3 separate regions of the Homo sapiens genome follow, and regions 2 and 3 are each linked to region 1. The links come from fine-mapping of genetic effects on gene expression. A gene starts in region 1. Each other region holds a variant in brackets. All regions are shown on one strand. Distances are between the middles of the regions.

Evidence for each region. PIP is the estimated chance that this variant, and not a neighbour inherited with it, causes the effect.
Region 2: its variant is the best candidate, but not a certain one, in a credible set for the expression of ANOS1 in testis (GTEx, PIP 0.63).
Region 3: its variant is the best candidate, but not a certain one, in a credible set for the expression of ANOS1 in spleen (GTEx, PIP 0.63).

The regions. Positions count from the first base shown.
Region 1 is chrX:8,728,918-8,734,144 of GRCh38, forward strand. ANOS1 (anosmin 1) reads right to left here and starts at 3,220. Exons shown (of 14, transcript NM_000216.4): 1 at 2,913-3,220. The coding sequence starts at 3,119. RefSeq lists an enhancer at 1-126.
Region 2 is chrX:8,663,407-8,668,633 of GRCh38, forward strand. The region is part of intron 2 of ANOS1 (anosmin 1); the gene reads right to left. Among named protein-coding and RNA genes, the nearest start is that of ANOS1, 66 kb to the right of the region's middle. The variant A/T (reference allele first, on the strand shown) is at 2,995.
Region 3 is chrX:8,652,995-8,658,221 of GRCh38, forward strand. The region is part of intron 2 of ANOS1 (anosmin 1); the gene reads right to left. Among named protein-coding and RNA genes, the nearest start is that of ANOS1, 77 kb to the right of the region's middle. The variant T/C (reference allele first, on the strand shown) is at 3,154.

The DNA.
Region 1 (5,227 bases):
CAGACCTGGAGGTGTCAGGTGTGCACATCTACCCACTGCTTTTCTGTCTTGTTGCTGAAGGGCTGGGCAGTGGAGGACAGTGGGGACAACTGGGGCACAGACTATGAGACGACAGCTTCCTCTGCAGGCCGACGACAGCAGGTCACTGCCCCAGGGAATCTGTGTCACTGCCTACACCATGAGTGCATAGGTTGCGCTCTCCTGAGGCAAGGCCTGACAGCTTTCATAATTGAGAGTCCACATACCTGGCGGGCATCCAGGCTGGAGGCCAGGCAAGCTTCTCCCATCCTTAAACATGGCCTGAAACCGTGCAAGAGAAGATGGAAACAGGCACCTGCTCCAGAGACAGCTTTATGGGTGGGCTCATTTGCAGGAGTTGGGGGCGGGGGTGACCCTGTAGGAAAGCAATCTTCTTAAGACTTCCCGTAGCCCAGTCATGAGTTGTCTGCAGACTGATTGCTCCACCTTCCTTCCTTTTTTTTTTTTTTTTTTTTTTTTTTTGAGACAGTCTTGCTCTGTCACCCAGGCTGGAGTGCAGTGGTGTGATCTCGGCTCACTGCAACCGCTGCCTCCCGGGTTCAAGGATTCTCCTCCCTCAGCCTCCTGAGTAGCTGGGACTACAGCATGCACCACTACACCAGGCTAATTTTTGTATTTTTTGTAGAGACGGGATTTCAAGTTGGCCAGGCTGGTCTCAAACTCCTGACCTCAAATGATCTGCCCGCCTTGGCCTCCCAAAGTGCAGGGATTAGAGGCATGAGCCACTGCGCCCGGCCCATCTTCCTTCTAATTATTAAAAAAAAAAAAAAAAAAAAAAAAAAAGGAAGGCAAGCGGTGGGGAACAGGGAAGCTTGGGGTTTTATAAGGAGAATGTGTTGCTGGCTTTTCAGATCTTAAAAACACTTAATCCCTGCAATTTAGATAAATCAGATAGGCATTACCAGGTTAGGGTTAAGGCTCCCAGAATGGCTTTGCAATTGATTACAAACACAGCACTTATTAAGTCTTAACTGAGTAATTTGCAGCTTATTTCACCCCCAGCTAATTAAAATGTAATCAGGATTGTCTAGCAATGTGCATTCTGTCAGCAGTTTTTCTTCCAAAGAGAAATCATGCCAAGGAGACCACAAGAAAAGCCTTTCACGGGAACTGGCTTCATCTAAGCTGGTGCTTTAGCCACTGAAACTGTAAAACAAATAAATTACAGCACTGACAATTCAAGAAAAAGAAAAAAAAAAGGTACTCTTTCTCCCTGGGAATAGGCTGCTCCGTTTTGTTTTGTTTTCTGTTGTTTCAAACAATAGTGTGGCATCTTAGGAGAGTGACTTTCAGGGTAGGACTCGGAGGGCTGGAAACCAGGTGCCTGGGGATCGGCCCTCTCCTGGCTCTGTCCAGGATGTCTGGGTAATTTCACCACAGGAGGTGAGCACTGGGTCTTCCATTCCCTGAAGACGCAGAAGGACTACAGAGCGTGCCCATTTCTCTGACACCCACGAGACGCTGCTTCTACGACTTAGAACAAACTCAACTGCACACTCGCGAACGCGCCAGCTTCACCAGCCGGTTCAAGATCATCCCCGAGGGTAAGGGGAATCACTTCCACATTCCACCCTTATTAATATGGCCTCCTCTGGCAGCTTAATTCCCAGGGCCTCTAGGGGGACCCCCCCCCCCACCCCTTGACCCAGCTCTGGCAGGAGGGGCGCCCAGTTTAAGAGCCAAGGGTTTGGCTTCCAGTTCCCGCCCAGCCAGGGGAACCCCTCCCCCCAGCCCCCATTTCTCCTTTTGGTCCCTCCAGAGTTTCCCTGAAGCGAGAAATTGGGAACTTGGAACAGGTGGGCACCTAGGGATAGAGGCGAGAAGAAGAAGGAGAGAAGGATGAGAGAAGAGAAAAATAAGCGGAGGATTTCAGAGCTCGCACGCTCGACAGGGCTGGTACAGGCAGCAGCTGCACTCGCTCGCGCTGAGTCCGGAACCTGCTCTCGTGCGCCCACCCGCACCCGGAGCCTCGCGCAAGTCCCGCGGGGGTCCGCGCCACAGGGCAGAGTCCCGGCAACCCGCTGGAGCCAAGCGCGCGGCTCCCGGAGCCTCCCACACAAGCGCGCGCGCACACACACATACTCCCCACCCTCAGGCTGAAAGAACCTACGTTCGGGGTTTGGGGGACGGTTCCCCCGGGACTCGTTGAGGAGTATCCGAATACGGCCCCGCCAAATCCCCTGTCCCCGGCACTTCTTCCCTGACGCTCTACGCTAGTCCAGGGCAAGACCTTGAATCTTTGGGGTTCCGAATTGAGGCGCGCACAGCCACTCGCACCCCCAACACGCGCATACACGCACCCTGGAACACGACTTGGCACAAGTACCCTGGCTGGGGCTCCAAGGGTGGGCAGCGAGCTCTGAGCCCTCAGAGAGTGAAAACCATCTTTCAAAAGAGACAAAGTGTCGGCCCGCGGGCACCTGCGGGGCTGGGGCTCGAGGTGAGGTCCCCAGGCGCAGCCGGACGCGCCTCCCAGACTCCCTCCCAGTGCCCCGGAGCGCCTGGGACTTTGCGGGAGTCGCCGCCCGCCCGGAGTCTCGCGCACTCCAATTCCCGGGAAACCGCCACATCCACACACCCACTCCCAGCATCCACGACTCTCCCTCCCCAGGGAAATCGCCTTTGGTTTCCTGCTGGGAAGGAGGGAGTTGGGGCAAGATGTCTCGGGCTTCTTTTTCTTTTCAGGAGCCGGGAAGAGGCTGGAAAGGAGAGTTCCAGCACCCCGACTGTAAGATCCACGCCCAGGGGAAGCCAGGATCAGCCGGCGGCGCTGGCCGAGAACTTTGCGAGCCCAGGCTGGGAGGCGCGCGCCCCGGTGCGCCCACGCCGCGGCCGCAGCCCCAGAAAGAACCCGGGCGGGGGCCTCCCCGTACCTGGAAGTGCTGGAAGAAGGCGGAGATGCGAGTGATCTGCAGGCTCAGGCACCTGGAGGCGCAGCGAGCGCGCTGGACGCTCCCGGCAGACAGCGACTCGTCCAGCCGCCGCGCAGCAGCCGCGCCGGGGCCGGCCGCCAGGCAGCCGCTGGAGGCCGCCAGCCAGAGGCAGAGGGTCAGGACCGCGCCGGGCACCCCGGGCACCATGGCTGCGGGTCGAGGGCGAGGGCGAGGGCGCCGGGCGCGGGCCGAGGCTCCCTGCTCCGCGCCGGGGCTGCACTGCTGAGGACCAGGCAGACGCCGCGACTGAGCCGGAAAGTTCAATCCTTCAACTCCGGCCGGACCCTCCTCGCCGACCTCCCTCCCAGCTCGCCCTCGAGGGGTGGGGTGAGGGGGACAGGAGGCCGCACCATTGGCTGGAAGGCGTGTGAGTGACAGGGGGGCCGGGCGCAGGGCCCATGGGCCGGTCTCGTCAGCTGCGAGCCCGGGCGCTCCGGGGGAGGGCGACGCCGAGCGGCTTTCCACGCCGCGCAGGTCTCGAGGGGCCCAGCTCCCACGCAGGCGCCTCTCCCGTTCGCACCAACCGCTTCCTGCCCCTCCCACCTTCCCCCTCCGTCCAGGTAAACGTCGGTGTGAGCAGGTCCAGGCCTGCCAGGAGGGGTGCTCCCTTCAGCAGGAGGGAAGAGGCCTCAGGACCCCCAGGGGCGTCCCACCTGCCTGGGGATTGACCCCGCGCCCCTAAGTGGCTTGCTTTCTCCCCGACCTCCCCTGGGTCCAGGCTTTTCCCACGCTTTCACATATTCGAATTTCCTTTGCCCAGGTAGTGGAAAGAAGTGAAGAAAACAAATGGCAGTAAGACAGACGGGGAGGGGAGCGTGGACATTTGCCCTACAGTGTCCCGGAGACAAATTCCTCCTTCTCTCCCTCTTGCATTTCTTCCGTCCTTCCCGCATCCCTCCCTCCCTCCCTCCCGCACTGTTTTCCCTGGAGACAGTCTCAGTGCATAGCTAACCACCTTTAGGTCCACACGCCTTGTTTCCTCAGGTGTCTGTTTTTCTAGTAAGCCTTGCACGCCCCAAAGTGAGTGATTTATTCTAAATAGACTTGCGTCTTAATCTCTTTCTTTCCCCACGATTTGCCCGAGCCTCTTGACTCAGGCTTTTTAGCTTTGGAATGGCTGCTCCGTCCTCTCCTGTCGTTTTTGTCTAGTGTTCTCTCAGCACACAAATTCTCCCTCCCCAGCCAGGATCCTGCCACAGAAAGACAGGAGGCATTGATAAGACACAACTTGTAACAAAGCTCTACACTCCCCTGAGCCCCATCAGGAAGTGACAGTCCCCTTGCAGGTAGGAGAGCCCAGAGAAAAAAGACCCAGGCACACTCCTATTCGAATGGACAACAACTGACTGCTGTTCCTTTGCTCTGACATCTCCACCCTCTCCTACCCAATTGCACTTTCACCTTCGAAAACGGGATCTCTATAAGCACCCAGCTAAGCACAGTCAGGGTATCTAGATGCACTCGCTCTACTCAAAGCTACATCAGAAGGCTGGAATCCTCTTTGCACAAAGCCTATATAGTTGTTTTGCAATTTCCCACCCTTTTCCCTATTCTTATACACAGGTTCCACTCTGCAATTTTGAGATCTGCCTGTTAACAAATTGCAATGACAGCCATCTGCAGCTATCCTATTATGAGTGCTTTTCAAATACATCATCTTACATGTGTATTTCTTCACATAGCTTAAATCAGAAAGGCCAGTCAAATTAATTGGCCTTGGTGTGTTTCTCAGCGAATTAGAAAATCAGGGTCATCTTGTTCAAAAGGTTCTATAGGCAAAGCCAGTTTCATGGACATGCAAGCTGTACAATGGTACAGTCGCACTCTTAGAAGGCCTGTTCTGCCATCACCATCCTGAAACTCTTCACAATGACAGTGGCCTGTTAGGAACTGGGCCGCGGCAGGCCAGGGAACATTACTGCCTGAGCTGTGCCTCAGGTGAGAAATCAGTGGCAGCATTAGATTCTGATAGGAGCTTCAGTCCTATAGTGAACTATGCATGCGAGATGTCTAGGTAGCGCACTCCTTATGAGAATCTAATGTCGATCTGAGATGGAGCAGTTTCATCCCCAAGCCATCACTTGCTACCCCCAGGTCCATGGAAAAATTGTCTTCCATGAAACCAGTCCCTGGTGCCAAAAAGGTTGGGGCCACTCTTTACTTGGGCTGGAAACCTAGTAATTTTGGCATAAGCTTACACGACTTCAATGATTTGTTTTAAAATTGCTCAGAATTGCAAATGGAAATATTTTTTA
Region 2 (5,227 bases), 66 kb before region 1:
CAGGCAGTAGTTTGCTGACTCCTATTGAAACTGTGCCCCGAGGAGTTAAAGAAACCAATGACTAACAGAAATTCTTGAGTTTGCAGGATGGTAGATAAGAAAAGAAACAACCTGCTGAAATGCTGAAACTCCCTATGCTTGTAAGATAACAAAACTGGCTGAAATCAGTTGGAACCAATAGATCCAACTGGAGCCTGCCCAGAACAAAGCTTGCTGACATCATGGCCTGAATTTCTATCTTGTGTTTCCTACTAACTCCCTCTGAATGTGATCCATGAAGTACTGTGAAGAGGTAACTATGCCTGCCCAAGGACTTTCCATACCTTCCCTTTCCTTCCACCAATCAACCACTAATCCCAGGATCCACCTTTTCTAATAAAATTATTACATTACATGGAATCAATCCAATGCCCATCAATGATAAACTGGATAAAGAAAATGTAGTACATATGCACCATAGAATACTATGTAGCCATAAAAAGAGATCATGTCCTTTGCAGGGACGTGGGTGGAGCTGGGAGCCTCAGCAAACTAACACAGGAGCAGAAAACCAAACCCTGCATGTTCTCACTTATAAGTGAGAGCTGAACAATGAGAACACATGGACACAGGGAGGGGAACACACACTGGGGCCTGTCAAAGGGGTGGGGGAAGGGAGAACATCAGGATAAATAGCTAATGCATAGGTGATGGGTTGATAGGTGCGACAAACCATCATGGCACATGTTTACCTACGTAACAAATCTGCACGTCCTGCACATGTATCCCAGAACATAAAATAAACTTTGTTTGTTTGTTTTCTGAGATGGAGTCTCACTCTGTCGCCCAGGCCGGAGTGCAGTGGCGCGATCTTGGCTCACTGCAAGCTCTGCCTCCCGGGTTCACGCCATTCTCCTGCCTCAGCCTCCCGAGTAGCTGGGACTACAGGAGTGCGCCACCACGCCCGGCTAATTTTTTTGTATTTTTTTAGTAGAGACGGGGTTTCACCATGTTAGCCAGGATGGTCTCAATCTCCTGACCTCGTGATCCGCCCACCTTGGCCTCCCAAAGTGCTGGGATTACAGGTGTGAGCCACCGCCCCCGGCCAGGGATTTTTTTTTTTAATATGGTACTTTGTAGCCTCTGGAACAGCAATACAGAAATTCCAGCCACTACAAAATAAATGTATGCGTGCATGCACACACACACATACACACACACCCCTTTACCCTTTCAGTTGAGCCTTTTCCATAAACAAATTCACCCTCCCTTGATGAACTTGATTTGCAAGGCTAAAACCAAATAAGGTGTAAGTTAAGAGGAGAGCCTGCTGACACAAGGGTACCCCACGGTCTCTGCAGATAGGTTTCTCCTCCTGGTAAAATCTCAACAGGCACAGAGGGCAAGAAAGAAGAGCAGCCACGGTGGTGTCTCTGCCTCCATCACAGGCTCTTCTGCATTCTTTCTCTAGCACCATTTCTCTTTTTGAAGAACTCAGTGATTATGGCTTTTGGGGCACAATTTCACAGGTCCGCATAAGCAGATGTTTTTATGCATATCGTCTCCCCCAGGGCTCTCTTGTGAACACTGTATAAGCAGGCACACAAAATGATGAACAAAGCGTCCCCAGGACCCCTCTGAGATAGAGTTGATCTCAGGCATGAGCAAGAGAACGACAAGACAAGCCTGAAGCATCCCGTCATGCTGCAAAGGCGGGACGTGCTCCCAGAATGACAGGCACTCATCCAACGGACGCAGCAGTGTGCTTCAAAATTCCCCACAAGTCAAACCTTGACAAACTGGATATCAAAACAAATAATGGTGGGAATGGATTCCAACCCATTTCAATACTTCAGAACCCATGAGTCCATAGTGACAACACACAAATAAGAAGATAAAGCTCTGCCTTAAAACAGAAAGTAAATTACTAACTGCATAAAGAAAGAAGTGCCTGGCAGTGCCCAGGCTGATCTGTCACAGAGTTGTACTTCAGAGGTGAGATATTGCACTCCCTAACTCAATCACTAGTCAAAAGGTCTTGTTAATACAAAAGACTTTTCTAATCTTGGAAAAAAATAGTGGAAGGTAATACTGTCCAATGCTAATAGCTAGGTGGTAGATATATGGGTAACATTTTTTCCCTCCAACTATTTCCATTCTTTACGTATTTTGAATGGGTGTGTACTGCTTTTCTCATGCTCATAAAGACAATTGTTGAACTCTAAAACATCAAAATATTTCATTATTAAGACTACTCAGTATGGATGTAAATATTGCAGGTGCTGAGATGTTGGGGACCCAATTCACTTAAACATTTTTTAAATTCTCCTTTTATATAAGTTACTAGTATTGGAAAATAAAACAATCAGTTAAGTTGACCTTCAATAACTTAAGAGATAATGGTGGCAATATCCACCATGATTATTTTAGCAAAGCAAATTACTTTGGATGATATTCTTTAACATTTAAAACGTTGGCATTTCTTTACTCCAAGTCCTCCATGCCCCATTTTTTAAAAAGAAAGGGAAGAGAAAGACCAGACTTGGTGGCCAACACCTATGATGCTTGAGCTTTGGGAGGCTGAGGCAGGAGGATTGCTTGACCCCAGGGGTTCAAGACCAGCCTGGGAGACATAGCAAGATCTTGTCTCTTCAAAGAAAAAAAAAATTAATTAGCTGGACATGGTGGTATGCACCTGTAGTCCCAAGGCTGAGGCAGGAGGATCGCTTGAGGCCAGGAGTTCAAGGCTGCAGTGAGCTACAATCACGCCACTGGACTCTAGCCCAGGTGACAGAGCAACAACCTGTCTCTAAAAACAAATATGATACTAATAAAAGAAAAGAAAAAAATCCCAAATTTTAACCTTATTATATAATCTTTGATGTATATTTACCAGTATGAAGAGTCCCCTTTGTTGTATTTAACAAATTCTAAAGAATAACACGGTTATAGGGAAAATAAAGGAAATAGAAAGAGGTTAAGAATGTTTACATTTTCACTATTATCAATTCAACA[A/T]CTCCCCAACCAGTATTAGATTATTTTCCCTATATCATAAATGTCATAATAAAAAATGAAATAAGGTTCCTGGAGCCTGAGAGAAAATAAATACATATACACACACAATGGAGTCATAAAATCTGCAACATTGTAAGTTTTCCCGTTGTAACTTTCAATGTGTTGAAGCATCTTCTTAGTTGGTTACAATGAACACTGAAAAAGCTAAATTGATATATCCCCAAAGTCATGAAATGGTATCTCAGACACAGGGATGACCTTCAGAGGAAAAATGCTCCACATTCCCCACATGCCCAAGAAGCAAAAATGGACAGACTGTTTTTGTACTAAATGAAACTGTGGCGTCCATCCAAAATGTGGACATTGACATCGGCGCTGATAAGTCCCCTTCAACTTTGCATTTCCTCCTCGTCTCCAGGCTTCTTCATAACTGGAAATTTTGACTCTCACACAACTCACTTCACCTTGTATGCCCCAGGATGAGGTTGAGGGGGGCCCAGACAACATCACCCCATGAGGGGAAACTGCCCCAAACAAATACACCAAGTATCAGCAGTAGGAATAGCCAGGGAGAAAATATACCCTGCTCTAGGCTAATTTGACTATGAAAAAGTTTCATTTTTAGGCCAGCCATTACCCATGGCTTGGGCTGAATAGTATAGAACTCCATAGGTGTTAGAAATTATAAACTCTGTCCTCCTGATGCTTTCACCCAAGGCTGTCCCATCAGGTGCTCAGAGCTGCTGAAATTTCTCCTTAAAATTCTAGCACCACAACATTCAAGTCTAAAAAGTGGAGGAATTGAGTTTACATTGGTTTGACTGGATATTCAAGCCTTCCCGTACTGGACAAATGAAACTCTTCTCTAATTTCCATAAAGCTTTTGTTTGTTTGTTTGTTTGTTTTTTGCGGGGGGATGGGGGTGGGGAGTTGGTTGTTTTCTTGAGACAGAGCCTTGCTATGTTGGCCAGCATGGACTCAAACTCCTGGGCTTAAGCAACCCTCCTGCTTCAGCCTCCAGAGTACCCGGAATTAAAGGTGTGCACCACTGTGCGAGCTTCATTCAAGTTTTAGAACTTCATCCTTAATTTTAGACAAAAACAGAGGAAACCATCTCATCAAATCACTCCACATTTTAAATAGAAAAGCAGAGTTCCAGAGAATGAAAACCACTGTGGGCCGGGGCTTGCACAGTGGGCAAGAGACGAAGTGTTGACTGTAATGTGGGTCACACACCCTTTGTTCATTTCAGACCCTGTGAGGTCTACTGGAGATAAAATATCATCAGCCGTATGGGGGTTGCTTCTTAGAAGGAGTAAGGTAAGGTAGAGTAAGGTAAGGGATTTAGTGGCCCAATACCAGAAAGGAGTAGTGTGTTTTTAGAAGACATTCTCCCAAATCCTGCCTGGCCGAGAAGGGTAAGAGTATGGCTGTGGAGGATTAGGAGAGTGGGGGAGCTGAGAGCATGAATTGTAGAGCCAGATGGACTGGATTAGAATCTTGTCACTCTTGCCTTCCCCATATGCATAATGAGAAAAGAGGAATAACTATTTTGTAGAAGTGCAATGAGGTCTGAGTGACTGCAAAATGCTGACGAGTGTCAAGTGTCAGGCGTATTTAAGGTATTTTTAAATTTTTTTTTTATTTCCATAGGTTATTGGGGAACAGGTGGTATTTGGTTACATGAGTAAGTTCTTTAGTGGTGATTTGTGAGATTTTGGTGCACCCATCACCCGAGCAGTATACACTGAACCCAATTTGTAGCCTTTTATCCCTCACCCCCTTCTCACCCTTTCCCCGAATCCACAAAGTCCATTATGTCATTATTATGCTTTTGCATCCTCATAGCTTAGCTCCCACTTAGGAGTGAGAATATATGATGTTTAGTTTTCCATTCCTGAGTTACTTCACTTAGAATAATAGTTTCTAATCTCATCCAGGTTGCTGCAAATGCCATTAATTCATTCCTTTTTATGGCTGAATAGTATTCCATCATATATATATATATATATATATATATATATATATATACACACACATACATATATATATATGGTATTCCATCATATACATATATGATAGTCCATATATATATATGGTATTCCATCATATATATATGATAGTCCATATATATATATATATATGATGGAATACCATATATATATATGATGGAATACTATATTATATATACCATATATATATCACAATTTCTTTATCCACTCATTGACTGATG
Region 3 (5,227 bases), 76 kb before region 1:
ACAGGCATGCAGCACCACACTCGGCTAATTTTTGTATTTTTAGTAGAGACAGAGTTTCACCACGTTGGACAGGCTGGTCTCAAACTCCTGGTCTCAAGTGATCCACCCGCCTCAACCTCCCAAAATGCTGGTATTATAGGCATGAGCCACTGTGCCCAGCCATCATGCTTACTTAGAATACTGAGTATAATTCAGTATTATTATACTCACACTCACTCACACTAAGATCTGTTTCTTTTGTTCTTGCTTTTATCATCTGCTCACCTCTTCATTGCAGTTGCTTTAGATTTGGTCATCTCGGGGTGAAAGAAGAAATAGGGCTCAACCTGTAGCTATTGGAACAGGTCTACATGAACCCACTGTCATTTTGCTTGGATGCTCTCCTAGATTGAATGTTCCTGGACTGAGAGCCTAGTAACCAGATAGTGGATTCTTGTTATCTACTCCAGTAAGTGAAGTGGTGCCTCCATCCTTGGAGTCATCCTGGACCTCTCTCCTCCCAATTTCAATCCTTCAGCAGATCCTGTAGGCTCCACCTTGAAAGTACTTCCCCACATACCTACAATCTCTGCCTTACTTCCTCCAGATTTCTGCTCAAGTGTACAAATACACATGACCTTTTTACCTTACTTGTCGGAAAATAAACACCCTCCTCAAACCCTAGTTCCCCTTATCTGGCTCAATTTTTCTCCCTGGTTCTCCTTACTAACCACAGTACTTGAATTGGCTCACTGCGTTTTTTGTCTGTCTCACGCTAGAAGGGAGTTTCATGTGGGCATGGTATGTGTCTGTCTTTTCACCCTATGGTCCAGAGTCCATAAAAGCTTTCAGCACACAGTAGGTATTCAATAAATATCCAGTGCATGAGTGAAGAAGGAGACAGCATGACATGGGGTTGCAGAAAAGAAGCCAATGACTTTGTTTTCATGTTAAATTGTATTGAGTAGCAAGCATGATGCCACATTTGAGGGATTCAGTAGTGACCAGAACTGAAATGGCTATAGCCCTCCAGCCAGCTAAATCCCTTGGCACTGATCCTAAAAGACACAAAATTCATGGCTGTGAATATCAGCTTGAGCCTCAGATCCTTCTCTGTCTTTACTCTCAACTCCAAGCCATCCAGCCCCAGGGCTAGAGCTGACACTGCCTTCGTTAAACCTGTTCCCCTGGTTCTTGAAGCCAAATTTGGTCTTATGTCTCCCATAGGTCTGTATCAGGAGGGCAGATGATTCTGGCACAATACTTCAGTATAAACAAACCACATGTGTAACCAAAAAGCAACCAATAAAATTAAGTACGAATGTTCCCCAGCAAAGACAATCTGTGCTCTGCTCCAAAGGAATAGAATTCCATAAAAGAAAAAAAGAAAGCTGTGGTTTTCTTGAAGGTCTATCTCTATTCCATTCACCTGTACAGATATTTATCTCAGTAACCAAATATGTTTTTGACCTACTGCTAAAAATTCACCACCATGGGAACTAAAATAAAACAAAAGTCTTTTTACAAGCACAGATTTTACAAACCTCGATTCTTGCTTTCATCTCCGTTTTATTCACCAAGTGTAGAAGCAGTACACTTTCTAAAGAATTTAACATAAAGAGCCTTTAACGTCTCCAAGAAGCAAAGTTCATGAAGAGCCCACCCTGTGATTCCCTGTCCCATGACTACGGCTCTCAGTACGGTGTGTTGACATGATTTCTCATCTGTTCACTGCTCTAGAATAGTCTATCAGCTCCTTAAAATCAGGGGCCGGGTGTCTCATTCAAAGTTTGGCAAGCTAAGCCCATTGGGAAATGAATCCACTCTGACATTTGCTTTTGTACAGCCCCATGGTGATATTTAATTTTCAAATGGTTGAAAAAAAATAATATTTTGTAACACCTGATAATTATATGAAAATCAAACATCAGTGTCCAAACACGAAGTTTCAATGGGATGTAGCCATGCCCATTCATTGCCAGATTATCTATGGCTGCTTTCACGCTATGTCAGCTACATTAGCAGTCCCCAACCTTTTTAGCACCAGGATCTGGTTTTGTGGAATATATTTTTTTTTTCCATGGACTGGGTGAGGAGGAGGAGAATGGTTTCTGGATGATTCAAGAGCATTACATTTACTGTGCACTTTATTTCTATTATTATTACATTGTAATATATAATGAAATAATTATAAAACTCACCATGATGTAGAATCAGTGTGAGCCCTGAGCTTGTTTTCCTGAAACTAGACGGTCCCATCTGGGGGTGATGGGAGACAGTGACAGATCATCAGGCATTAGATTCTCATAAGGAGCCTGCAACCTAGATCCCTCACATGTGCAGTTCACAACAGGGTTTGTTTGCACTCCTATGAGAACCTAATGTTGCCACTGATCTGACAGGAGGCGGAGCTCAGGTGGTGATGTGAGCCATGGTGAGTAGCTGTAAATACAGAATAAGCTTTGCTTGCTCACCCAGCACTCACCTCCTGCTGTGTAGCCTGGTTCCTAACAGGCCATGGACCATTAGGGGTCCGAGGCCCTAGGATTGGGGACACTTGAGACACATCACCACAATCATGCTACATCGTCACACTGAGTGGTTGCAACAGAGACAACTCTGTCCCAGGAAGCCCAAGACACTTGTCATCTGGCCCTTTAGAGAAATAATTTTCCAGCCCCTGGTCTAATTTATCTCCTCCTCCCCACAGTGCAGCAAGGACCTAGAACATAGCTGATGTTCATCAGTGTTTATTAAAATGAACTGAAATTGTCAGCAAAACTCTGACCTCTGGAAATAATCTGAGATCCCCCAAATTATTATTTTGTTATCTTATAAAGCACTTCTAATACAATTAGCAAAGGCTCTAGCAATTACAAAGCAAACTCATCTCTCATAGAAAGTTCCCCAGCTAGGAAAAACTGGAGAAGGTAATTTTATCTGATGGTATGTCATTCAGTCCAAGTCCCTCAAAACATCAGTGGAGTAAGCAGAACTGTGGAATTGTTTCTTTGATTCCAGGAATCCTAGAATCAATACCCAACACCATTATCACACACACGAGCATTAGGCCTTGCCAAGGGTAGCAGCCAGTAAATATCAGGAATGGAGCTAAGGAATCAGAAAATTGAAAGAGGCCCCAATTTTTATGCCTACAATATCTGACCCAGCCAC[T/C]ACCTGCACATCTCCACTTCATAAGACATCTTTCTGCATTCCCGCAAATGTGTCAAATTGGGAGAAAATCCTTCCTCATATCAAAGCAGGGCTAAACCTGTTGCCTCTCTACCTTTGATCCAGCAGTGATAGTTAAAAGCACAGGCTGATGCATTAGAATGCCTTGTTGTGAAATGTCCTAGGAGCCTGGCAAATTGTGTAGCCTTTCTCTGCCTCAGTTTTCTTGTCAATACCATGGGGACAAAAACATACCTGTGAGTCTTGCCCAACAATATTTAAGGCACCTACCTTTCATGATACGAGTCAGCCATACCCTGTCCATCCAGCTGCTTGGAACCTTTACTGCCCTCATCCTTTGGGGCAGACTTTCCATTTTCCTTTATGCCCTGAGCCACTCATTCATCCTCGTCTAAGTTGCTAAGCTTTTCTACTGAAGTTATTGCAATCATTGCAAATATCTTCTTACCCATCTCCCTGCCTCCTGAGTCTCTACAAATTGGTTCTTCCCATGGAAGCCAGTACCTTTCTGCATGGCATGGATCCCTGTTCTGCAAAGTCCAGGCTCTTTGGAACACAGTTCTCAACGCCATACATGACTTGAAAAGCTCAACTCCCGATGTGAGGCTCTTGGCGTTCACCCTCAGATGACCATATGTTCCCCCAATGAGCCAGTACCTCAGGTTCCCCAGACACATGCTGAGGGAGTCTGTGCAGTAAGAAATCTGATCTCACTCAAAGAGAGATCTGTTGTCCCTACCCCTGGGAGGCAATCTCTAAACTTGGGATGTCCTGAGTGGTAGGTGTCTTTGTTATTCATGGTGCCCCTAGGACCATGCCTGTTAGTTTTTGCTAGTTAGGAGGCACCTGGTAGAGCCCCTCCAGGCCAATTGGTATGAGCCCAATCTCCAGAGAAGTGGGAAGGGGGCAGGCAGAGATTGATTTTAACCACACGGGTCATGGCTCGATCAATCATGCCTACGGCATGAAGCCTCAGTAAAAACTCTGGACACTTGAGCTCAGGTGACTTCCCACGTGGGTGATATTTCGTGCATCCTACCATGTGTGGAAATGCATCCTGAAAACAATGGAAGCTTCGCATTGGGAATTCCCCTAGACTCTACCCTGTGAACTCCTCTTTTGGCTGGTTCAGATTCAGATCATATCCCTGTAATAGACGTGAGCCTTAGCATAATAGCCTGCAGTGAATCCTGGGGGTATTTTTAGCAAATTGTGAAACCTGAGGGTGGTTTTGAGAAATGCTGAACTTGTGGTTGGGCAGACATCTTGAACATACTTGGCAATTTGGAGGACTGTGCTTGCTTTTTTTTTTTTTTTTTTTTTTACGGAGTCTTGCTCTGTCGCCCAGGCTGGAGTGCAGTGGCACGATACCAGCTCACTGCAACCTCTGCCTCCCGGGTTCAAGCGACTCTCCTGCCTCAGCCTCCTGAGTAGCTGGGATTACAGGCACGTGCCACCACGCCAAACAGATTTTTGTATTTTTAGTAGAGATGGGGTTTTACCATGTTGGTCAGGCTGGTCTTGATCTCCTGACCTTGTGATCCGCCTGCCTCAGCCTCCCAAAGTGCTGGGATTACAGGCATGAGCCACCGCACCCAGCCAGGACTATGCTCTTAACCTCAGAGGTTGGCACAGTCTGGTTTTACATGATCCTAAGATGGAGAATAAGGAAGAAGGGGAGTGAGGCAGGGGACAGAAGGGAGTCCAGGGTACACTAAGGTAATGCTTTATGCTCTGAGTACCTGGGGGTCACCTGCACTGGGAACCACTGGGAGTCTGTTCTCCTTCTCAAGTGACAGGGAAGCCATGGTATTTCTCATCTACTACCTCCTGTCTATTGGCACTTGAGGGCAGTTCCCGAGGGCATTAACTCCCAGTACCTCTAGCCTGCTTCTCAGTCAGAATAGGGAAGTTTCCACACTATGAGCAAGTTCTCAGATAGAGAGTGGCAGATGCAGCAGAAAGAGCTGTGGGTGCTCAATGTATTGGCAAGCACCATGGAAGGGACATGGTTAATGCCCTACTGCATGAGCTCAGCTATTTCTAATGCCTCAGA